Linked DNA regions of Homo sapiens. The protein of the gene in region 7 interacts with the protein of the main gene of each other region in a pairwise test. Each region holds a gene or a part of one and is shown on either strand. Other genes may lie near its edges. The genes, in order: SH2B2, WFS1, ZSCAN4, PLEKHG4, FHL5, MID2 and HCK.

The links.
Region 1: the proteins of HCK (region 7) and SH2B2 interact in binary tests that used the Homo sapiens proteins (3 or more experiments, as listed by UniProt).
Region 2: the proteins of HCK (region 7) and WFS1 interact in binary tests that used the Homo sapiens proteins (3 or more experiments, as listed by UniProt).
Region 3: the proteins of HCK (region 7) and ZSCAN4 interact in binary tests that used the Homo sapiens proteins (3 or more experiments, as listed by UniProt).
Region 4: the proteins of HCK (region 7) and PLEKHG4 interact in binary tests that used the Homo sapiens proteins (3 or more experiments, as listed by UniProt).
Region 5: the proteins of HCK (region 7) and FHL5 interact in binary tests that used the Homo sapiens proteins (3 or more experiments, as listed by UniProt).
Region 6: the proteins of HCK (region 7) and MID2 interact in binary tests that used the Homo sapiens proteins (3 or more experiments, as listed by UniProt).

The regions. Positions count from the first base shown.
Region 1 is NC_000007.14:102,289,868-102,293,367, forward strand, and holds part of SH2B2 (SH2B adapter protein 2), read left to right. Parts: intron 1-3,235; exon of another isoform or gene 3,236-3,320; intron 3,321-3,500. UniProt on the Homo sapiens protein: Adapter protein for several members of the tyrosine kinase receptor family. Involved in multiple signaling pathways. May be involved in coupling from immunoreceptor to Ras signaling. Acts as a negative regulator of cytokine signaling in collaboration with CBL.
Region 2 is NC_000004.12:6,276,350-6,279,849, reverse strand, and holds part of WFS1 (wolframin), read right to left. Parts: intron 2,400-3,500; 5' UTR 2,395-2,399; coding exon 2,163-2,394; intron 1-2,162. UniProt on the Homo sapiens protein: Participates in the regulation of cellular Ca(2+) homeostasis, at least partly, by modulating the filling state of the endoplasmic reticulum Ca(2+) store.
Region 3 is NC_000019.10:57,671,935-57,675,434, forward strand, and holds part of ZSCAN4 (zinc finger and SCAN domain-containing protein 4), read left to right. Parts: intron 1-3,500. UniProt on the Homo sapiens protein: Embryonic stem (ES) cell-specific transcription factor required to regulate ES cell pluripotency. Binds telomeres and plays a key role in genomic stability in ES cells by regulating telomere elongation.
Region 4 is NC_000016.10:67,286,032-67,289,531, forward strand, and holds the end of PLEKHG4 (puratrophin-1), read left to right. Parts: intron 1-242; coding exon 243-332; intron 333-413; coding exon 414-635; intron 636-717; coding exon 718-888; intron 889-968; coding exon 969-1,146; intron 1,147-1,866; coding exon 1,867-1,983; intron 1,984-2,135; coding exon 2,136-2,369; intron 2,370-2,444; coding exon of another isoform or gene 2,445-2,457; coding exon 2,458-2,573; intron 2,574-2,771; coding exon 2,772-2,777; 3' UTR 2,778-3,449; downstream 3,450-3,500. UniProt on the Homo sapiens protein: Possible role in intracellular signaling and cytoskeleton dynamics at the Golgi.
Region 5 is NC_000006.12:96,604,628-96,608,127, reverse strand, and holds part of FHL5 (four and a half LIM domains protein 5), read right to left. Parts: intron 3,379-3,500; coding exon 3,204-3,378; intron 2,227-3,203; coding exon 2,057-2,226; intron 1-2,056. UniProt on the Homo sapiens protein: May be involved in the regulation of spermatogenesis. Stimulates CREM transcriptional activity in a phosphorylation-independent manner.
Region 6 is NC_000023.11:107,929,502-107,932,137, reverse strand, and holds the end of MID2 (probable E3 ubiquitin-protein ligase MID2), read right to left. Parts: 3' UTR 501-2,636; downstream 1-500. UniProt on the Homo sapiens protein: E3 ubiquitin ligase that plays a role in microtubule stabilization. Mediates the 'Lys-48'-linked polyubiquitination of LRRK2 to drive its localization to microtubules and its proteasomal degradation in neurons.
Region 7 is NC_000020.11:32,072,742-32,076,241, reverse strand, and holds part of HCK (tyrosine-protein kinase HCK), read right to left. Parts: intron 2,924-3,500; coding exon 2,881-2,923; intron 2,527-2,880; coding exon 2,424-2,526; intron 1,620-2,423; coding exon 1,521-1,619; intron 1-1,520. UniProt on the Homo sapiens protein: Non-receptor tyrosine-protein kinase found in hematopoietic cells that transmits signals from cell surface receptors and plays an important role in the regulation of innate immune responses, including neutrophil, monocyte, macrophage and mast cell functions, phagocytosis, cell survival and proliferation, cell adhesion and migration.

The DNA.
Region 1 (3,500 bases), on a different chromosome or scaffold from region 7:
TGGGGTGGGAGTAACCAGGGCCAGTGCAGCTGGAACCAGCTCAGCCTGTCCTCCACCTGCAGAGCCCATCCAGGAACTGTCCAGCACTGGGTGCTCCTGAAGGAGGCTGAGTCTGCCTCTTGAGCCCACAGGCCCTGGCTTAGCTTGTTGTCCTGGCCCCCACTCCCTGCTTATCTGACCCGCACTTCCTGCAGAGCCCAGCTGTGGATTCCCCCGCCCCCCCACCCAGCCGCTCAGAGTGCCCCATCCTCTAAAGGTGGTCATTTCCTTTCCTGAAACAGGGATTCAGTCTTCCCACTCTGCCCTTGGAAGCGGAGTTCCCCAGAAACAGGTCTCAGAAAGGGACCAGCCTGGAACTTGGCTCCATACCCCCCTTTTTTTTTTTTATTTTTTTGAGACAGAGTCTTGCTCTGTCGACCAGGCTGGAGTGCAGTGGCGTGCAACCTCAGCTCCCTGCAACCTCCGCTCCCTGCAACCTCCACCACCTCTGGGGTTCAAGCAATTCTCATGCCTCAGCCTTCTGAGTAGCTGGGGTTACAGGTGTGCACCACCACGCCTGGCTAATTTTTGTATTTTTAGTAGAGATGGGGTTTCACCGTGTTGGCCAGACTGGTCTCAAACTCCTGACCTCAAGTGATCCGCCCTCCTCGGCCTCCCAAAGTGCTGGGATTACAGGTGTGAGCCACTGCACCCGGCCTCCCCTCTTGTCCATTCTGCAGCCCTGGACCCTCCCACCTGGCGTCTGACACACAGTGGGAGCTCACCACTGCGTGGTGGCCAGAGCATGGTGGGTAGTCACCTCCCTCCCCAGAACCCCATTTCTTCATCTCTGCAATGGAGAAACAACTCTTTCTTACAGGGAAGATGTGAGGGGAGAAGGGTTTTAACAGGGGCATGGCCCACTGAAATGTGGGTTCTAGAACGCTGACCTTGGCCACATTGGAGGCTGGGTTTATGTGTTGGGGCAGTGGGTACCTCTGCAGCTGCCTGCCAAGAGCAGTTGGAGGAAAAGGGAATGAATAGAGCTGTGATTTTTAAACAAATTGCTTATTTAATCTTCATGACAGCCCCTTAAGTTTAGCACTGCTGTCACCTCCATCTTAACAGATGGGGAAACTGAGGCTCCAGAGTCCAAGGGGTCATTTCACTGGGTAGCAAGGCAGCTGGGATCCAAACCCAGACAGTCTGGCTCCAGATCTCAGACTTTTAACACTGTCCCAGCATGTCAAATGACCAGAGGTGGCCATAGGGAGATGCCCAGGCAGTGGGGCTCCCTTTGCTGGGGAACAACTGTCAAAGGCAACTGTGGGAACCCCTGGGACTGAGGGTCTGCAGACGCCGGTGCCAGCAGGGCTTGTCAAGCTTGGGATGTCTGCAAAAGCCGGGGGGCTCAGCAGAAGGGCTCCCACCCTCCCGTGGCGGTGGCAAAGGCTGAGCGTGGCATGAGAGGCCTGGGGTTGTCCTGGGTGCAGGGCTGTTGCAATAGCTGCCTCCAAGCGATGCTGCTCAGGCCGAGCCTTGGACTAGAAAGTTATCTGCACGGAAGAGCAGCTAGGGAAACTAATGCTCAGAACAGCCAAGACCACTAGTACCTAATCACCCATACAGAGGCATACAAGTCCCAAGGGCTCTGAATCCACACCTGTCCCCATCGCCAGCCAGAAGGCCCCCACCCATCCACTCTGCAGCAAAGTCACAGCAAGTTCAAGGGTTAAGTTAAGACCAGAAGCCATGCCTACTTTGCCTTCTGCCGGGGTGGTGGAGTGAGCTCAGATATTCTGGGAGGGGAGAGTTGGGGAATTCCAGCCACATCTGGCAGGAGGCCCTGGTTCAGAGCCTACCTTGTGGGGATGTGGTCTCTGCGGAGGTGAGCAGTAACACGGGCTTGAAAACCAACGCCCACGTATTCAGCAGTGAAGCAGAGACTGCGCTGTGTGCTGTGTTCCTGAATCTGCAGGGGAGAGAGAGACTCATACCTAGTCAGCGGGTGGGAGTCACTCCAGGCCGGAGGGATGACCTGCCCAAAGAGCATCTGTGTCCTGCCCAGGGAGGGGTGCAGAGAGGAGGCTGCAGGGGTGGAAGGGACTGCCCCACCGAGGCCAGGAGGGTGCTTGAGGAACAGCAGGATTGAAGGAGCCTATGTTGTCCAGAGTGAGGCTGAGTGGGCCAGGCCAGTGCTGCTAAGGTCCTGAGGACCCCTAAGGGCAGTGGACATGAGAAGGCATGGCTGGGCAGGTTTTCTGAGGATGGTGGAGGTGAGCAGAGTGAGGCCTTGTCTCTTGTGTCAGGCAAGGAGGTACCCCAAGAAGAGGCTGCATGAGACCAGCCTGGGCAACATAGTGAGACCCCCATCTCTACCAAAATATCAAAAAATTACCTGGGACCGGGTGCACTGGCTCACATCTATAATCCCAGCCCTTTGGGAAGCTGAGGTGGGCGGATCACCTGAGGTCGGAAGTTCGAGACCAGCCTGGCCAAGATGGTGAAACCCTGCCTCTCCTAAAAATACAAAAATTAGCCGGGCTTGGTAGGACGCACCTATAGTCCCAGCTACTCGGGAGGCTGAGGCAGGAGAATCGCTTGAACCCAGGAGGCGGAAGTTGCAGTGAGCCAAGATCACGCCATTGCACTCCAGCCTCGGCAACAGAGCAAGACTCCGTCTCAAAAAAAAAAAAAAAAAATTACCTGGCCATGGCGTCTTGTGCCTGTAGTCCCAGCCACTTGGGAGGCTGAGGCAGGAGAATTGCTTGGGCCCAGGAGTTCAAGGCTGCAGTGAGCTATGTTCAAAGTGCAGTGCACTGCACCCCAGCCTGGGCCACAGAGTGAGACTTTGTCTAAAAAGAAAAGGCCTCAGTTTCCCCATAGCGAATGGTTCATTGGGGGGTAGGTGGCACTGCCCACCCCAGGACATAGGAGAGAACCCTTAGTTCTGACCGTCTCCCCCTTCATGCACTTGGTTCTCTGACTGCTGCTCTGAGGACGGAGCTAAGTGAGGGTGCAGGAGGAAGGGGGGGTCTCTTGGCAGTGGGGCGCAGCCTTTTGAGGTGCTGCATAGCTAGTTTGACCTGTGGGACCACTGACCATCCCTCCTCTTCCCGGTGCTCCTGGCCTCCTGTGGCTGGGATGGTGCTGGGGAGGAGGTGGGGGGTGCCAGCTGGAGGTGGGCGGGGCTCCTGCCTCTCCCCGCCCCCAGGGCCACCGCCCACTGTGCCGCGCATCGATTGGTCGCGGGCCCATTAGGCGGGGCGGCGAGTCCGACTCATAAATATTTTAAGGAATGACCCGGCCCTGGGGTGCGGAATTGCTGCGCGGGCGGGGGCTGAAGACCGGCTTTTTTTTTTTTTTTTTTTTTTTGGTCCTCCAATTGTCAGCGCTATTTTTACCGCCGGAAAGCCGCCGCCCCCTCCCCCATGCCGGCTGGACCTACTGTCTAGCCGGGCTGGTGGCTGGGGTCTCTTGTCTGGGTTGCTGGTCGTGGGGTTAGGAGAGGCCGTGGCCTG
Region 2 (3,500 bases), on a different chromosome or scaffold from region 7:
CTGCTCTTCTCCTGTTTCCCAAGTGTACAGGCCAAGGAGCAGCTCAGATGGGGCTCCGACGATGCCTCCTCCAGGCAGTCTTCCTGATGCCCTGAAGAGTGACCAGGCCCTCCTGGGGTGCCCCTAGGGGACTGCAATGTGGGTTGTCCCCCGCGCTACATGAGCCCCAGAATGTAGTTCCTTGTTCACTCCTGTCTCCCATATTGCTCAGGGCTCCCGGAGGGCAGGACTGAGCCTTCACTCCTGTCACCAGGGCCTGGCCAGGCACTGATCTAGGGACAGGCCAACCTGCTCTGTGCACTTCTCTGAGCCTGGGACATGGGGATCCCTGGGCGCAGATGACCTGAGGCCCATAGTGAGCACAGGCTCCACGGTATGTTTAAATCTCCCCTCCACCCTTCACCAACCACGGGACGCTGGGTCATCTACTTAAGCCCTCTATCCCTCGGTTTCCCATCTGAAAAACAGGGCAGCAGCAGAGCCTGCCTCCCAGGGCTGTTAAAGAGGCAAGTGGGCTAATGCCCTAAAAAGATGCCTAGCTCGGGGAAGTGTCAGTTAAATAGCTACCCTTGTTGTTACCTATTGGTATTTCAACTGATGCTCACCCACCTATGTTGGCTGGATGGGGGAGCTAAATAACAGATTCTCGCAGCAGCTGCTACTGGCAGGGACCCTGGGCCCTGCCCTCCCTGCGGCCACTGGGCATGCAGGGCCAGGCCTGCTTTGGCCACATCAGTGACCAGTGACTGGGAGACGGGATGCCCACTGCCCCCAGCTGCAGGCCCAGTGGTGGGGACTGGGCTGTCAGGCGGCGCCCAGGGCTTGCTCTTCACCACCCCCACATTGGAGACCGAAGCCAAACAAACCACAGCTGCTTCCTGACTCTTCTTATCTGAAACACACAGTCTTGGACTCTGTCCTTTGCGGGCTGTTCTCATTACCCAGATTGAAACCAAGCTTCCGAGCCCTGGTATCTGTTCCCCTGAAGCCGTGAGGCTGGGCCCAAATCCCGGGGTCAGGCCCTCATCCGCCCAGAGGCCTCCAAAACAAAGCAGAGGAGCACAGTGATCTTTTAAGGAGATGCAAAGACAAACAGGGCCCAGGGCTGCAGTGAGTTTCCAAGGGCACGCCCAGCATAAGTGGTACATGGGAGCCTCAGCGCGCTGCGACCACAGCAGGGAGGCCCCACGGCCCTGCCAGTGGGGTGACTGGGACAAGAAGGAAACCTGGACCACTCGAGCACCTCGTCTCTCACCCGCTGGGTCTCTTGGGCAAGTCACCTAGACTCGGTGTCTCAGTTTCCCCTCTCAGGACTGCCATGAGGAGTCCTGCAGGCACATGGAAAAGGCTGGTGTACACAGCAGGCACTCACCATGGGTCTGGGGCTTCTGCATGGGCAGGAGGGGCAGTGATGAGCTGGGACTGAGCCTCCCTGGCAGCGGCCTCTCTAGCAAAAGTGAAGGCTGACCGAGGCCTGAGTCAGCTGGAGAAGGTGCCCAGGGGCCGGACTCCCCTGGCTCACACCCACCACCCTCACATCACCACCCAGGAACCAACAAGCCTGTCAGCTCTGCCTGTGAACACCAAGGGCCTCAGCTCTGCTTTGAACACCCAGGGCCTCAGTCAGCTCGGCCTGTGAAGACCAAGGGCCTCAGTCAGCTCTGCCTGTGAACACCCAGGGCCCCAGCATCCCGCCTCAGGATGGAGGTGAAGGACGCCCGTCCCTCACAAGTCTCCCTCAGGGAGAGGGGAAACTCAGCACCAAGGGCTTCGCCCGCATGTGGCCTCACTCCCGAGAGTGTGGCTGTCACCTCTGGCCTGCCACCCTAGTTGGTTACAGAGGGCCCGTGAATTTACTCCACATGTTTGGACGCTGTTGCAAATGGAAGCTGTGAAGTGCTGCAGAGGCCCTGGGAAGAGAAGGACTGCAGAGGAGTGGGGGCACCAGCACCACCTCGAGTGGGTGCCACAAAGGTGACAGGTGCAAGGCTCTGAGGAGGTGGGTAGCCCCACTGGATGGACGCCTGTGCACAGCATGGGAGCTGCACAATGCTGAACTGCAGAGGACCTGGCGGGGGGACCCTCCAGGGGTGGCTGAACCCCGTTCCCACCCAGCTATCCCTGAACATCCCCAGCCTGGGCTTCCCAGCCTGCTCCCTTACCGGTGCCGTCTGCTCTTTCCCGGCTCCTGGTATGCTGGGCCTGGGGTTCAGCGGGGGCCGCTGCGTCTCTAACACCAGGGCCAGGGCCAGCCTGGGGTCCGGGTGCTCGGGGCCTTTCGCTCCTCTCCTGCTCCAACGAGGCTGTGGCATTGAGTCGGGAACGCGCCTGGGGCTGCGGTGCTGGCGGGGGCTGTGGGCAGGAGGGGCCCAGCGGAGCAGTGTTGGAGTCCATCCTGCCTGGAAGAAAAGTCAAGGTCAGGCACATCCAGCACCGGCAGAGCCCGCTCTGGCACTTAGTGTCTGCTGGAGACAGAAAAGCAGAGGGAGGCAGGTGGGAGCTGCCAGACACTCCATACAGGATCTCGCTGACACTCAGTACAGTCCCCATGGGCCAGCACCGCTTCCAGGGAGGAAACCATGGGAGGACACTCACCCACGTGACTCTACAGATGGCATGGCACTTACAATCTCAGACCTGCACATGCCGAGGCCTGGAGTCCCTGCCTCACTGGGCATGAGCCACACAACCCTGGCCTTCCCTCATCCAAGAAACGGGGATGATGATAGCAACACCCAGAGCCCACCCATGTGGAGCCTGGCTGCAGGGGGCTGAATTGGGCCCCACATCATGTGCCCACCAATGTCTGTGAATGTGCCCTTATTTGGAAAAACAGGTCTTTGAAGATGTATTTAAGGATCTTGAAATGAGATCAGCCTGGAGTAGGGAAGCCCTGGCTCCAAGAGCTGATGGCCTATAGGAAGAGAAGTGTAACAGAGCCATGCGGAGACGGGTGACAGTGGCCAAGGAGCAGGAGGACCACTGGCCACTGCCAGAAGCTGGACAGAGGCGAGGAACTGAGCCTCCCTCAGAGCCTCCAGGAGGGACCCACCCTGCCCACACCTTGACTTCAGACTTCTGCCTCCAGAACCATCAGAGAACAAACCTCTGTTGTTTTAAGCCACCAAGTTTCCAGTAGTTTCTTACGGAAGCCCTAGAAAACTAATACGCTGGTACTGAGTAAAGTTAAGTAAATATGAGAGGGGAAGGGAGCTGGGGAGGGGAGAAGAGGGCAGGGGAGAGAAGAGAGGGAGCCAAATGGGTGGAGCTGGGATTCATACCCAGATCTGCCGCTCCACAGCCCCCACCCCAGGCCCAAGCCACAGCACCGAAGTCAGAGGACTGATGCCCCAGAAACCAACACAGAGAGTAAAAAGCAAACTAAGGCAAACAGTGCGGTGGGGGCATCAGAAGAGACTAGAGTGAGCAGAGATCCCGTGACCCGTGTCACGCCGGAGCAAGGGCTTTATTTTATTCAACAGAGGCCCTCACATGCTGCT
Region 3 (3,500 bases), on a different chromosome or scaffold from region 7:
TATGGCATGAAATTTGCTTTTTTCAAAATTGCACAAATCTTTGAAATGTTAACCATATATAAAATTGGAGAAAAAACACAAAAATAGCAATGATATATTAACAGAAAAGGGATTAAATTCTTTATCCATTCAGGATTTCAAAGGGTGTGTCTCTAGTTGTCCAGATAATCTGATTTGGGATTAGAAATCAATTTCAAGCAATGCAAACTCACTTTTACTTCTGAATCCTAAACATCAGTAGGAAAGGACAGGGAGTAAAAACAGATAAACATAAAATAGTAGCTTTGGTTAAAGCAGTAAAGTTCTAAGGAATGGTAACTGTTAATGGGAAAAAAATTCAAGCAGAAAAGGTGCTAAGAATGTTTCCTAAGGAATGTATCCTTTCACAACACAGTGGGTGTAGCTGGTAGTGGCCTTGCAGATGTCTGTGCCTAATAAGTTTTCAGCCAGAGAAAGGTGTCATTTGTATGGATTCTGGCTTGTCTTTTCTATTTCATTCACTTCTTTCTCTTTTTCTTGTTTTCCCTAGCTTTATTGAGGTATAATTGACAAAGATTGTATATATTTAAGGTGTACAATGTGACACTTCTCTCTCTATATATATGTATACTTTGCAAAATGATTACCACGATCAAGCTAGTTAACATATTCATCACCTCACATAGTTATCTTTTTTTTTTTTTTTTGAGACAGAATCTTGCTCTGTCACCTAAGCTGGAGTACAGTGGCGTAATCTCAGTTCACTACAACCCCCACCTCTCAGGTTCAAGTGATTCTTGTGCCTCAGCCTCTCAAGTAGCTGGGATTACCGGTGCATGCCACCACACCCAACTCATTTTTGAATTTTTAATAGAGGTGGGGTTTCACCATGTTGCCAGGCTGGTCTTGAACTCCTGGCCTCAAGCGATATGCCCACCTCTGCCTCCCAAAGCACTGGGATTACAGGGGTGAGCCAATTATCTTTTTTATATCATGAGAACACTGAAAATCTAGCAAATTTCAAGCATACAATATATATTAGCTATAGCCACCATGCCGTACATCAGATCTCCAGAGCATATTCATTTTTTTTCCCTAGCCTGAGAAGGACATGGTGACATTTAATTAATTAATTTATTTATTTATTTATTTTGAGATGGAGTTTCACTCTGTCGCCCAGGCTGGAGTGCAGTGGCACGATCTCGGCTCACTGCAACCTCCATCTCCTGGGTTCAAGCGATTCTCCTGCCTCAGCCTACCGAGTAGCTGGAATTACAGGTGTGCACCACCACAGCCAGCTAATTTTTGTATTTTTAGTAGAGAAAGGGTTTCACCACGTCTCATCTCAAGTGATACGCCTGTCTCGGCCTCCCAAAGTGCTGGGATTACAGGCGCGAGTCACCGTGCCCGGCCACATATTTATTTTATAAATGAAAGTTTGCCATAGGCATAGTAGCTCACGCCTGTAATCCCAGAAAGGCTAGAGTGAGGAGCAGTCACTTGAGTCCAGGAGTTCAAGACAACCTGGACAAAATAGCGAGACCAAGTCTCGAAAAGAAAATTTTTAAAAAATTAGCTGAGTGTGGTGCGTGCCTGTAGTCCCAGCTACTCAAGACGCTAAGGCAGGAGGATCGCTTGAACCCAGGAGGCTGAGGCTGCAGTGAGCTGTCATGGCACCACTGCACTCTAGCCTGTCTGACAGACGGAGACCCTGTCTCAAAATAAATCAAGTTTGCACCATTTGATCAACATCTTCCCATATGCCCCACCCCATGCCCCTGGCAACCACCCTTCTACTCTCAGTTTCTAATACTTTATTTTCTGATGATGATGATGATTATTATTATTATTATTATTATTGAGACAGAGTTTCTGTGTTGCCTAAGCTGAAGTGCAGTGGCCCAATCTCAACTCACTGCAACCTCTGCTTCCCAAGTTCAACCCATTCTCCTTGCTCAGCCTCCCGAGTAGCTGCGATTACAGGCATGCACCACCACATCTGGCTAATTTTTATATTTTTAGTAGAGACGGGGTTTCGCCATGTTGGCAAGGCTGGTCTTGAACTCCTGGTTTCAAGTGATCTGCCCGCCTCGGCCTCCCAAAGTGTTGGGATTACAGGTGTGAGCCACAGTGAAAAGAGTTTTTTTGTTTTAATTTCAACTGCTTGTGATAACACAATATTACAATATTCAGTTCATTTTGGTTTATTGGCATTGTAATAGACATCTCCCTAAATTCACCTAGGCTAATATTTGGTGAATATTTTATTTTATTTTAGATTCAGGGAGTACATGTGCATGTTTGTTACAAAAGTATTCTGCATATTGGTGGAAATTGGACTTCTAGTGTACCTATTACTTAAATAGTGAACATTGTACCCAATGGGTAATTTTTCAATACCCATTTCCCTCCCAACTCCCCCGCTGGAGTCCCCAGCATCTGTTATTTCCATCCTTATGTCCATGTGTACCCACTGTTTAGCTTCTACTTATAAGTGAGAACATGCGGTATTTGGTTTTCTGTTTCTGAGTTAGTTCACTTAAGATAATGGCCTCCAGCTCCAACTATGTTGCTGCAAAGGACTAATTTCATTCTTTTTTATGGCTGCATAATATTCCATGGTATGTATTTCACATTTTCTTTATCCAGTCAACCACTGGTAGACTCTTAGGTTGGTTCCATGACTTTGCTCCTGTGACTAGTGCTGCAATCAAAATATGAGTGCAGGTGTCTTTTTTTATATAATGATTTCTTTCCTTTTGAGTAGATACTGAGCTGGATCAAATGATGGTTCTATTTTTAGTTCTCTGAGAAATCTCCATACTGTTTTCCATAGAGGTTAACTGATTTGCATCCCCACCAAATTTATTGAATACTCTTTGTAAACAAAATCAAGACTCTATAAATATGTTTGAAATATTTTCTTTCCTTATTTCACTGGTTAGGGAGCAATCCAATGTTTCATAGAGATGATAGCTCAAGCAGAAAACTTTTAACAATAAATTTTGTTGTAACTACTTTATAAAATATTTTTCACATCAAGTTTTTTTTTTTTTTTTTTTTAAGAGTCTCACTCTGTCACCCAGGCAGGAGCTCAGTGGCATGATCCTGGCTCATTGCCACGCCCACTTCCCGGGTTCAAGGGATTCTCCTGCCTCCACCACTGAAGTAGCTGGGTTTACAGGCACGTGCCACCATACCCAGCTAAGTTTTGTGTGTGCGTGTGGCTTTTTTTTTTTTTTTTTTTTTTTTGAGACGGAGTCTTGCTCTGTCAGCCAGGCTGGAGTGCAGTGGCGCAATCTTGACTCACTGCAATCTCCACCTCCCGGGCTCAAGCAATTCTCCCATCTCAGCCTCCTGAGTAGCTAGGACTACAGGTGCATGCCATCATGCCTGGCTGATTTTTGTATTTTTAGTAGAGATGGGGTTTCACCATATTGGTCAGGCTGGTCTCGAAATCCTGACCTCAGGTGATCCACCTGCCTCAGCCTCCCAAAGTGTTGGGATTACAGGCATGAGCA
Region 4 (3,500 bases), on a different chromosome or scaffold from region 7:
GGAGCTCAGTCTGAGGGCAAGGGGCTTCTTCCTTGGGGGCCTGTGGGCACACCCCCTTTGCCCAGTACTGTTCTTGCCAAATCACCCCTTGTTCAAAGCAGGGAAGACTGGGTCTGTAGGGGAGGCCTCCCTAAGAGGCATCTACTGGCATTTTGGTCCTCTCAAGCTGAGGGTGGTCTAGCCTGTGCCAGCCTTAGGGAGCTGGCCCCTTTGCACTGGGGCTGAGCCACATGTCCTTGTAGAGGGTGCAGTTTGGGATGTACGCGCTCTACAGCAAGAATAAGCCTCGCTCCGATGCCCTGATGTCAAGCTATGGGCACACCTTCTTCAAGGTAAGTGAACCTGAGATTAGGAGGAGTAGGGGATGCGGGGAGTGCCCCCAAACCACTCAGTGGCCTCCCATCCGCCCACAGGACAAGCAGCAAGCACTGGGGGACCACCTGGACCTGGCCTCCTACCTGCTAAAGCCCATCCAGCGCATGGGCAAGTACGCACTGCTGCTGCAGGAGCTGGCACGGGCCTGCGGGGGCCCCACGCAGGAGCTCAGTGCGCTGCGGGAGGCCCAGAGCCTTGTGCACTTCCAGCTGCGGCACGGAAACGACCTGCTGGCCATGGACGCCATCCAGGGCTGTGATGTGAGTCATCCCAGGGCAAGGGCAGTGGGTGTGAAGAAGAAGGCAGAAGAGGCTGGCCACCCACCAGCCCCCAACTCTGCAGGTTAACCTCAAGGAACAGGGGCAGCTGGTGCGACAGGATGAGTTTGTGGTGCGCACTGGGCGCCACAAGTCCGTGCGCCGCATCTTCCTTTTTGAGGAGCTGCTGCTCTTCAGCAAGCCTCGCCATGGGCCCACAGGGGTTGACACATTTGCCTACAAGCGCTCCTTCAAGGTAGGCCTGCCCACCCCAGGCCCCACCACTTGTTTTCCCGCCCCATGCCTTACCAAGCCCCTCTCTCCCGCTGGCCACAGATGGCAGACCTTGGTCTCACTGAGTGCTGTGGGAACAGCAACCTGCGCTTCGAGATCTGGTTCCGCCGCCGCAAGGCCAGGGACACCTTTGTGCTGCAGGCCTCCAGCCTGGCTATCAAGCAGGCCTGGACAGCTGACATCTCCCACCTGCTTTGGAGGCAGGCCGTCCACAACAAGGGTGGGTCCATGCCCCTCCTTCACGCCACACTCCCCTCACTGGAGAGCTTACATTGACCCACAGGAGCCCAGAGACCTGGGAAAAGCTCGGGAAGTGGGGAGAAGGCCCAGCGACAGCCACCAGTGCAGGAGAAAGGATTTCAAAGCCAGGCAGCCTTGCTGTCACTGCCTCTGACTTTGGACACAACGTGAACTTCTCTGAATATAAGGGGCATCATGGCTCTCTCTCTCTTTATTTTTGGAGACAGGGTCTCGCTCTGTCGCCCAGGATGGCGTGCAGTGGCATGATCTTTGCTCATTGTAGCCTCTGCCTCCTGAGCTCAAGCATTCTTCCCACCTAAGCCTCCCAAGTAGCTGAGACTACAGGCATGTGCCACCATGCCTAATTTGTAAAATTTTTTCATAGAGGTCTCATTATATTGCCCAGACTGGTCTTGAACTCCTGGGCTCAAACAATCCTCCTACCTCGGCCTCCCAAAGTGTTGGGATTACAGGCGTGAGCCACTGCGCCCAGCCAGGGGCCTCATCTTTAAAAGGGGAATATGGCACCTGCCCCACAGGATTGTTGGGAGGAGAGCACCTGGCACTAGAAAGGCTCAGCTCACAGGACAGTTAATGTGCTGGATGGAGGTGTACAGGAAAGACTTATCTGGGGGGTGGTAGAGGCCCAAGGACAGGCTTATGTCCAGAAGCATCCCACTTATGTCCACTCTCCACCCAGAGGTGCGCATGGCTGAGATGGTGTCCATGGGTGTGGGGAACAAGGCCTTCCGAGACATTGCTCCCAGCGAGGAAGCCATCAACGACCGCACCGTCAACTATGTCCTGAAGTGCCGAGGTAGCAGGCAGGCTACAGGGTGTGGGGGTGGGAGTAGGAAAGCTGTGCGGGAAGCACTGTGGCCCTCCATTAGTGCTGGCCCGCACTTTCCTTGGGATCTGGGGCCAGGCTAGGCTCTGGCCTGTCCCAACCTGACCCTCTCTCTTATGCAGAAGTTCGCTCTCGGGCGTCCATTGCCGTAGCCCCGTTTGACCATGACAGCCTCTACCTGGGGGCCTCGAACTCCCTTCCTGGAGACCCTGCCTCTTGCTCTGTTCTGGGGTCCCTCAACCTGCACCTGTACAGAGACCCAGCTCTTCTGGGTCTCCGCTGTCCCCTGTATCCCAGCTTCCCAGAGGAAGCAGCACTGGAGGCTGAGGCAGAGCTGGGCGGCCAGCCCTCTTTGAGTATGTCTGGGCCTAGCCAGAGGCAGGAGGGCATGGCTTGGGGTCTGGGGCTTCCCGTGCTGACAGTTCACCCAGTCTCCCTCCCTAGCTGCTGAGGACTCAGAGATCTCGTCCCAATGCCCATCAGCCAGTGGCTCCAGTGGCTCTGACAGCAGCTGTGTGTCAGGGCAGGCCCTGGGTAGGGGCCTGGAGGACTTACCCTGTGTGAGTGCCATTTGCCCTATACCCACCAGCCCTTCCCCAGCCCAAGCTGAGCCTGTGACTGTGACCAGCCCCTCCCCAGCCCAGGCTAGGCCTTTACTTTGGGTAGAGCTTGGGGTGGGTGGGCCAGAGCCATTCCCCAGACACCTCCTGGGTCCAGAGTCAGGGAAGCAGGCATTCATGCCTGGCCTGGCCCTGCAGGTCTGAGCCCGGGACTGGACGAGCAGTAGATCCAGCAGCCTGCAGCTCCAAGGAACATTGCCTCTCTGGATCTGCTGTGACCAGGGTGTGGCTGACACCTGGGCTACCTCCAACCTACATGTGCAACGCTGTTGACTACCCTTTCTGATGTGTGTGGCCATTGGACTAACTGGCACGGGGCCTCTCTAGGGAAGTCTGGTTGTAGAGCCTGAATAGGCTCCTGGCCCCATGACCCCTTCTCCTGTCCCCAGCTCCCATCCCAGTTGTGGGTTAAGAATAGGCTAGAGCAGACATTGGGTGTTTCCATGCTGTAGGCTGGTGGGGGACCATGTGCCTCTAGGCAGTGACTAGGGTGCCCCCACCCCTCAGGAAGAACACAGGTGGGCTCCTAGCAGCTGATCCCCAATGCCTGGCCTTAAAGCCGAGCTCAGTTACCATAGGGACAGGTCCACCTCTACTGGGCCCTCATGCTTGCCTTTCCTGGCCCCCAGGCCCAGCCCCTTTTTACTGGGGCAGTTTCGTTATTTTGACTTGATGCCTTTTGAATAACTTTCAATAGAATTGTCTAAAATTATCTTACTGGTTGTTAGGCCTTTGGTGTCTCAGAGAAGGAGTCTAGGTCTTTGATGTGTGATTTAATCTTTTATTTGTTTATAATAAAAAATAGACTGATATGTACCCTCTGATGGGCACATGCATTCTGGGCTATCTCCAATTAAAATGAGACTT
Region 5 (3,500 bases), on a different chromosome or scaffold from region 7:
CTGTTTTAGTCTGTCTTTAAGAAATGCAGCCTAAAATTGGCCAACTCAGTTGTCTCTCAAAACAGTGAGATAAACCTATTCATTTTATTTCCAGCAAGATTTTATTTTCTTTAGTTTTTAAGTTTTGTATATTTTTTAGAGATAGGATCTCATTGTCACCCAGGCTGGAGTACAGTGGCTCAATCATAGCTCACTGCAGCCTTGAATTTCTGGGCCCAAGTGATCCTCCTGCCTCAGCCACCCAAGTAGCTGGGACTACAGGCACGTGTCACCATACTTGGCTAATTTTTAAACTTTTTTTTTTTTTTATACAGACAGGGTGTCACTATGTTGCCCAGGCTGGTCTTGAACTCCTGGCCTCAGGCAATCTTCCCACCTTGGCTTTCCAAAGTGTTGGGATTACAGACGTGAGCCACCATGCCCAGCTCCAGCATGTTTTTAAATGCCGTCATTGACCCTGGTAATTCTTTGGAGCTTCATATGTCATATGGCTTGATTGCTGCTTGTAAAGTCACCTTCTAAGCCAGTGTTTTGGTAGAGTAATGAAGGTCTCAGTCATAAGATTATTTTATGTCATGTGATCAATTGTAATTCTCAGCCATCAACATAGTGTAATTTAATAATGATAACTTAGCATAGTGTATTGCTGCCTCTTTAAATGCAGTAGTGGTATTGGTTATGTATGTTAAACAGTTAACTGCGTGTGTGTGTGTGTGTGTGTATGTGCATGTGTGTTCACATATGTGTGCATAGAAAGTGGTAGTGTGACTTCCAGCTGTCCAGATATACAAATGGGCTTAAGAGTTCTGCCAAAGTAACCCACAGATAAAAAATACTTTGAAACCACTATACTAATCCAATGTATTTTCATGATTCAGCTTTCTCATGACAATTTATGGTGTCATTTTAAACTTATGATGCCTCGCAGGTCAAGGATTTCTTTGAGAACCTCCATATATATTTTATGGAATGCAGACAGGCTTCATCAAGGTGTTAGAGCTACTTTTTCACATAAAAGCTTAGAGGATAAAAAAAGAATTGGATGAAGTTTACTTCAAAAATATTACTTTTTTTTTCTCTTAGAAAATGTTTTTTTTGAGTGGGAAGCCAAGTCAGAAGGCCCTACATGATCCTGGAACTGGAGTGAAGGAACTTGCTGCTCTTAGTCTTCTTTCTGTCTTTTGTCTACTGAACTTCCCCCATGATCTTGGCACTCTCTTGAGCCGATTGCCCTACTCATAGGAAATACAAAAGCTTCAAGTCAAGAAGACATTTGCATTGCTGAGAAAGAATGTGAGAAGTTAAACATCCTGTTTAACTTGGTTCCCTTAGTCACTTTGTGAGGCAAATCCATATTTCTCTGAAACAGTTAATACTGAATAGATCAAACATTATTTTTTAAGAAACATCTGTATTCAAAGAGAGACCTGTGCTTTCTCCCAGAATACGTGAGATCTTGTATAAAAGCAGTGAATGGGCCGAGTGTGGTGGCTCATGCCTGTAATCCCAGTACTTTGGAAGGCCAAGGCAGGTGGATCACCTGAGGTCAGGAGTTCGAGACCAGACTAGCCAACATGGTGAAACCCTGTCTCTACTAAAAATACAAAAATTAGCTGGACACAGTGGCACGCACCTGTAATCCCAGCTACTTGGAAGGCTGAGACATGAGAATCTCTTGAACCTGGAAGGCAGAGGTTGCAGTGAGCCGAGATTGTACCACTGCACTCCAGCCTGGGTGACAGAGCGAGATTCCATCCCAAAAAAATAAAACAACAACAACAACAAAAAACAGTGAAATGAACTGGAATACCAAATCACTTGAGCTGTTTGGAATATTAAATTCTTGTTGTGGCTGGAATTTTATGGTTAATAAAAAAAAAAAAGATGGTCATGCTCATCGTGACAACTAGTGGTTTGGACATGTTGAAAGTCCAAACTACCATGGGTGTGTTGATTACAGATATAACATAATAGTATCAGTTCATTCTAAATATATGATACAGCTAAAAAGAAATAGTCTGAGTTTCCACAAGCTTCACCCTCTTTAGAAAATTACCTTCTTACAAAAGTTGCAGTAGTGAGCAAACTCCTTCTCAAAACATGGCACACAATAATTGCCACTCTCTTTGGAGATCAAAGGCTTTGTCCCTATAGGTTGTCGGCAATTCTCACACACAAAACAGGTTTCATGCCAGTAGTTTCCCTTAAATTCCATTTTGCGGGAACCTGTACTCCAAAAGTAAGGCCATGTTAGTATAAGTCAAGCATAATTTTATTTTTTAAGCAAATACAGATCAAATTACTTAAAAACGTTTTAAGTTAAGATGATAAATGAATTGTCCTTTTAGAAAAATAGTATTTTTTCAGGTTCAAAAAAACCCATTCATCTGGAGAAAAAAAAATGGTTAATAAAGTTTAGCCATGATGATGGAGAATCACTCTTAGACTGAAAACTTTTTCAAGCTCTGCATAACCTATAATCTGGAGATGTAAAAGTACTTTTAATGGAGACTCCTAATGGTTTCACATGGTTTGGATAAATTGGGCCATAATAATCATTACAAGGGTATTAAAAATGCCCAGAGCACAACTACTGAGACTATACTGTGCAGTTATGGCCTTCTAGAAATTCTCTGAATCCATAATAAGAAAATGAGAGAGCAAGAGTGGCAGAGAATGAATTATGTTCTTATGCTGCTGACCATAGAGATTGAGAAGATCAAAATATAAAGAATTAGTCCTTGCCAAAAGTGGAATGATATACATGAACCCTGTCTTCCCTAAGAGAGAATAACAATAACCGATCCTCAAAACAGTTTGTGTCAAGCTACAAAATGGCAGTTGGCCCCAATCGCCTATGATGAATCACTCTTTCTGATGCCATTGATTGTGCCTAGGGCACTGTGTTTAATGTAGTGTTATTGGTATACATTTTGTCTTTATTTTATGGGTAAGATTCTGGTTTGAAATGTTTCTATGAATTAGACTATATGAAAATACACAGAACACTGTAATTTACCTGTTCAAGGATAATGAATGAATAATCTTTTTATTTCTAAAGTACACGGAAGAAGATTGAGAGAGTAAGAAAGATATCTTTCTCAAAACCAGGGTTTTGGGAGCTGCTGCACTCCTCATGTGCTGGGACTTAATGAAAAGCATCACAGCTTCAGTTAGAGACAGGAGCCCCCTTGAGACCCTACCAGGCATGATGGTCCTCTTGCAGTGGAAGCACTTGGAGGAGCACTCGTTAGAATAGCACTCCGTGCACAGCAGGCGCTCATCCTTGGCAGCAAAAGGCTTTTCCACCAAAGAGTGATTGCATTTGGTGCACTTGAAGCATCCTTCATGCCAGTGCCGGTCTTTGTAACAAAGATCCTTTGAGACAGTAAATAAAAGTTAATTAAATGTGGTTGTGACAATACAGGCCATTTTATGAAACAAAACTGAACACTCCTGGGACTCTCATGTCAGTAGGTTGTGCTAGTAGCGTGAGGGAA
Region 6 (2,636 bases), on a different chromosome or scaffold from region 7:
CCCTGCTTCATTCACTTCATATCGCATGATCCCTTTTAGTCTTAGTGCCACTACAAATCTGATTAAGATATGCCCAATTCTAGCCCTGAGGGACCTCCTGGCTTCCTCCCAGTCTCCTCCTGCAGGCCAGCTGTTTTAACAGTAAGTCAGCTCACTTGCTTCTGGTGCTACCCTAATCTTAATCAATGGGTTCCAGCACTGGGATTTTATTTGTTCTTTAATTCTCAACTTCTGCTCCAATCTCTAAAACTGAATGTGTCATGTTTCCTTGAACCCTATATCTTCATTTCTTTGGTCTTCTTGACCATATCATGCTCCTGAAATCAAAGTCTTCTTGATTGGATTTTGAGCTCCAGACCCCCTGGGTCCTTTCTGTCCAGATCACTACCTATTATATGATCCTTGGTTTCCCCTAGTCACTTACCCAATTCCAGGAGAATCCACGGCCATCTTCCTTTTAGTCCTCCCCCAATTCAACTCCAGCGAGAGACAACAAAGAATTCATGAATACATATATATTTATTTAATTCATAATATAGCATTTTGGATGGGCTGGAATATTGTAGAGAGGGATGAGGCTGTGTAATCCACAGATGCTCATATTTCTGTCACTAGGAGAGACACTATTGGTCCAGAGCTCCCAATACAAACAGGCGTGGGGTAAAGCATTTGATAAAAAATAGTCCAACAATAGTCTAATAAATAGTCTAGCCAATAACAACAATACAGCATATGTCTGAAGCTGGCAGACTACACCATAAAAGGCAGTTTTGTCTGACCTGATGGCAATCAGTTTGGCCAACCTGTAACACACAGCCAAATACAGCCATTGGCTCCAAGGCTGCAGTTGGCTTCAGGAGCTAGAAATAAGTGTAGGAGTGGTTCTTACCTACCTGCCTGACACTCTCCATTCCTTGGAGGAAGCAGTATCAAATATTTGAGTTTATTCAAAAGTCCATCCGTGGATTGCTCCATCTTGGTAGTCATATATAAATATGTAAACCATGGAAGTTTAGAAAATTCACCTAGAGTGTTTTAGCCGAAAAGAACAGATAAGTGATTTTGCTGCAATCTGAATTTCACTGCATCTAAAGATACACATAGAATTGTATAATAAAAACACATCCAGATGCAGTTACTCTTACTTACAAGTAGCCAGAACCTCAATGTGGCATTAAAATTTCTTTCATACTCTCAAAACAGGTTTTACTTTATTTTTGATTATTTTTGTGCTTTCTTCAATAAGACAATATAAAAAGTGGAAACAAGCATAAATTGCAGACATAAAATAATCTTCTGGTAGAAACAGTTGTGGAGAACAGGTTGAGTAGAGCAACAACAACAAAAGCTTATGCAGTCACCTTCTTTGAAAATGTTAAATACAAGTCCTATTCTCTTTGTCCAGCTGGGTTTAGCTAGAGGTAGCCAATTACTTCTCTTAAGGTCCATGGCATTGCCAGGATTCTATAAAAGCCAAGTTAACTGAAGTAAATATCTGGGGCCCATCGCACCCCCACTAAGTACTTTGTCACCATGTTGTATCTTAGAAGTCATTTTTCACTGTTTGACTCAGAATTTGGGACTTCAGAGTCAAACTTCATTGCTTACTCCAAACCCAGTTTAATTCCCCACTTTTTTAAGTAGGCTTAGCTTTGAGTGATTTTTGGCTATAACCGAAATGTAAATCCACCTTCAAACAACAAAGTTTGACAAGACTGAAATGTTACTGAAAACAATGGTGCCATATGCTCCAAAGACATTTCCCCAAGATAACTGCCAAAGAGTTTTTGAGGAGGACAATGATCATTTATTATGTAGGAGCCTTGATATCTCTGCAAAATAGAATTAATACAGCTCAAATGGAGTAGTAACCAAGCTTTTCTGCCCAGGAAGTAACAAACATCACTACGAACATGAGAGTACAAGAGGAAACTTTCATAATGCATTTTTTCATTCATACATTCATTCAATAAACATTAGCCAAGCTAATGTTCCAAGCACTGTGCCAGGTATTAACAATATAACAACAATAAAAGACACAGTCCTTCCTCTCAAGGTGTTCAGTCTAGTAGGGAAGATGATTATTCATTAAAATTTTTGGTGCATCAGAATCATGAGGAGCTTGTCAAAAATGTAAATTCCTGCCTATGTTCTCAGATATTCTGGTTAGGTCAGGAGTGGGAACCCAAAATCAATTCTTTTAACAAACACTAAAGGTGATTCTAACACAGGCGGTGTGAGGACCACACTTTGAAAAACACTGCTATACAATGTGATTATTGCTGAGAGAGGGGGATGCTTGGGGTGTCTTTGGATCTCTAAAGAGGGATGCATCATCAAGTCTAAGGAATAAAGAGTTAGTCTGGTTGAGAGAGATAGAGGTGAGGAAAGGTAGTCCAGGATAGAGTCAAAAGTAGGGTGGGGAAATTAGATCTTTGTCCCAGGGCACTAAAATCTAAAAGACACCACAATAAATGAACAGTTTTGGAGAGCCAAGGACAAGGCAAAGGAAATTGTTCTACTGGAATGGAGGTTGCATTTTCTGTACTTACAGCATTTTCACACTATTCCTTTAATTTAAGAAAAATTTCTGTTGTTTACTCTGGGCATTAAAATTGTTAATCATGTTTCTGCTG
Region 7 (3,500 bases):
TGATTCTCCTGCCTCAGCCTCCCGAGTAGCTGGGACTACAGGCACGCACCACCACACCCAGCTAATTTTTTTTGTATTTTTAGTAGAGATGGGGTTACACCTTGTTGGTCAGGCTGGTCTCGAACTCCTGACCTCAGGTGATCTGCGTGCCTTGGCCTCCCGAAGTGCTGGGATTACAGGTGTGAGCCACCATGCCCAGCCAGAAGGAGGTGGCTTTATAATGGGAAAAGCCTAAGCGTTTTCATTTTTAACAGGCAAGCATCCCAAACCCATAATACCATCTAGCTAGAAAGAGGAGGCAGAAGAGACAAAACAATGGGGACTGTCATTTGTCAACTTTTGATTGGCTGGTTTTTAATGGGATGTATTGCCACCCCACAATGTAGTCATCTTTTTACTCATCAACCTCATCCACCATACAGAGAACATCTCCAGCAGGGAGCCCCATCTAAGTCATCTTCTAACCCTGGAATAGGGAATCAACAGGTATCTGTTGGATGATGGATGGATGGATGGATGGATGGATGGATGGATGAATGGATGGATGGATGGATGGATGACTGAAGTATATTTTTAGAGTCAAGCTAGACACAAGAAGAACCCACAGCCAAGAACGATGGGTTATGGAGAGCTCCTTGAGGGTAGGGATATATCTTATTTGTTTCCACAGCCCCTTAGGCTGGCACAGGGCTTGAAGAGTCATGAGCATGTGCTTGTCGAATGAATCAAATGAGGGATGGGCCAGGTGCAGTGGTTCAGGCCTATAATCCCAGCATTTTGGGAGGCTGAGGCGAGAAGATCACTTGAGCCCAGGAGTTTGAGACCAGCCTGGGCAACACAGAGAGACCCCCTCTCTACCAAAAATACAAAAAAGAAAAAAATTAGCTGGGCATGGTGATGCGCACTTGTAGTCCCAGCTACTTGGGAGGCTGAGGTGGGAGGATCAACTGAGCCCAGGGAGGCTGAGGCTGAAGTGAGCTGTGATGGTGCTACTGCATTCCAGCCTGGGCAACAGAGTGAGACCCTGTCTCAAAACAAAACAAAACAACAAATGAGGGACGACTGGCCAGGTGTGAGCTGTCTCACCTCTCCAGAAACCCTCCTTGGCAAGACCGTGTGCTTCATTCAACAATATTTATTGAGCACTGACTGCATGCCAGCCTGTGCCGAGGATGCAGAAGCAGACAAAGTCCCCGCTCTCACCAGCTCTCTTCCTTGCAGGGCAGGCAGAGAATGCACGTGTAACCAACCAAAGAAACCAGGTCGTTTTGCTAGTAAAACATGTTCAGAAGGGATTAAAACAGGTTTCCACAAGACAGAGTCACAGCTGGGACCCACTTTAGCCTCTCTTCCCTGACTGGAAGGATGAAACCTGAAGGAAGAGAAGGAGCCAGCCAAGCCCAGAGCCCTGGGAAGAGTATGTGCCAGGCAGTGGTACAGTGTGTGCAGACGTCCTGAGTTGCAAACAAGGCTGGCTTTGCTCATGCCTCTTTCTGGAAGGTAGGAAATAGGATACTTACTCCTCTGTCTCCAGAGAGTCAACGCGGGCGACATAGTTGCTTGGGATGTAGCCCTCCTTCCGGGTGGCCAGGGATCGAGCCTTCCACCACTCCCCGGATCTGAGGGACATGAGGGAGTAAAGGTGTTAGGGACAGAAGGATCATTCTCCAGTCTCCTCAAGCTCCCCAGCCTTGACCTAGAAAACTCCCTGCCTCCAGAAAGCCAGTAGGGTGAAGGACAGGGCTGTGACTATGTCAGCCCCAGCATGTGGCCATGATTAGGGTAGGGATCCTTACAACAGTTCCTGCTGTGCATCTGAGGGTCTGGAATCTCCCTGTCCACAGCCCAGAGCCCTGGGTCTCTGGCTCCACTCCTTTTCCCTGGACTTGCAGCTTTGGTCTTATTAGCTATACCCATGGCAGGGTCCTGTGCCTATAGAGACTCAGAATGGTTCAGCTGGGGCTGAGAATAGGGGAGAGTGGGCTTGGGAGTCCGACCAGGCATGACCACTCCCGTTCTCGGGCTTCAGCACATCCTGGACACTATACCCATGATGGTGAAGGCTGTAGGAGATCCGAGGTGGCAAACTCAGAGATCCAAGGATTTCCAAATGCAAGGTCGACTCGATGGGGCCTGGTCCACAGGTAAAGCCGGTGGCTTAATCGCAGGAGCCCTAGAAAGGCTTCCCTGAGAAAGCGTCACCTGTTCATCTCAGGCTGGACGTGCACTCTCAGTAAGTGCACAATCCCCTTCATCCAGGTTGACAGCAAACCCTTCCTCCACTATTGTGATTAGCTTCTCATTAGACATTTATACCCAGGATAAGATAGCCCATCTATCAGGTTCTTTATGGAAGCACAAAAGAGCACATAGTTGAGTAGAGGAGGCAGGTCTGTCTTAGGGGGAGTGGGATGGGGACTCACTCCTCTAGGACCACCATCTGGTCCCCCTTCTGGAAGCTGAGGTCTTCGTGGTGAATGGCCTCGTAATCATACAGGGCAACCACGATGATGTCCTCAGAGCCTGCTGGGAAGGGAGACACACAGAGGGTGAGGTTTCGTCTAAGTGCATCCACAGCCCTTGGTGACCCTCACCCGGCACCTGGAACAGCTCCGCACCCATCGATATGTGGTTCCAAGTATAAGTAGGCGTCTCACCATGCTGGGTGTGATTCTCAAGTTTAAAGCTAAATATGTTTTGTTCATGTTACTAAACAGCGTTCTAGAAACACAATAGCCTGCGCAAAGCACTTCAGAGGAAATTTTGGGGATTCTCGACAGGGGTTTGACTGTTTGGGATTTATGCCTCAAGCTAAGGGAGAACCTAGCGGAGTCCTCTGCAGGACACATGACTCCACTGCATCTGCTCGTAGATACTTACCCTCCCTGATTCCTGGTGTGTTGCTGTTGTGGCTATTAGGCCCCTGTGGGGAAGAAATGAGAGAAGAGAATGAATCTGACCAATGTGTGGGGACCCGTGGAAGGTCTGTGTTGAGAAGGACACCCAAGAGCATCTTACCCTAGCCCTGCATGTCGTGGGAGGAGGCCCACATACGGCAGGGGACATGCCTGGCACCACACGGCACATTAGGGGCAGAGCCAGCAAACAAAATGGTCCAGATTTTTTGTTGTTGCTGTTGTTTGAGATGGAATCTCACTCTGTCACCCAGGCTGGAGTGCAGTGGCGTGATCTCAGCTCACCGAAACCTCCACCTCTCGGGTTCAAGTGATTCTCCTGCCTCAGCCTCCCAAGTAGCTGGGATTACAGGCGCATGCCACCATGCCTGGCTAATTTTGTATTTTTAGTAGAGATGGGGTTTCACCATGTTGGCCCGGCTGGTCTAGAACTCCTGACCTCCCAAAGTGCTGGGATTACAGGAGTGAGCCACTGTGCCCAGCCAGGATCCAGGTTTCTTGAGCTGTGACCTCGGCCTTCGGTCTTGGATGTACCGGGGGATGCTGCTTGACCCCTCCCCTCAACACACAGTGAAGGGGTCGGTC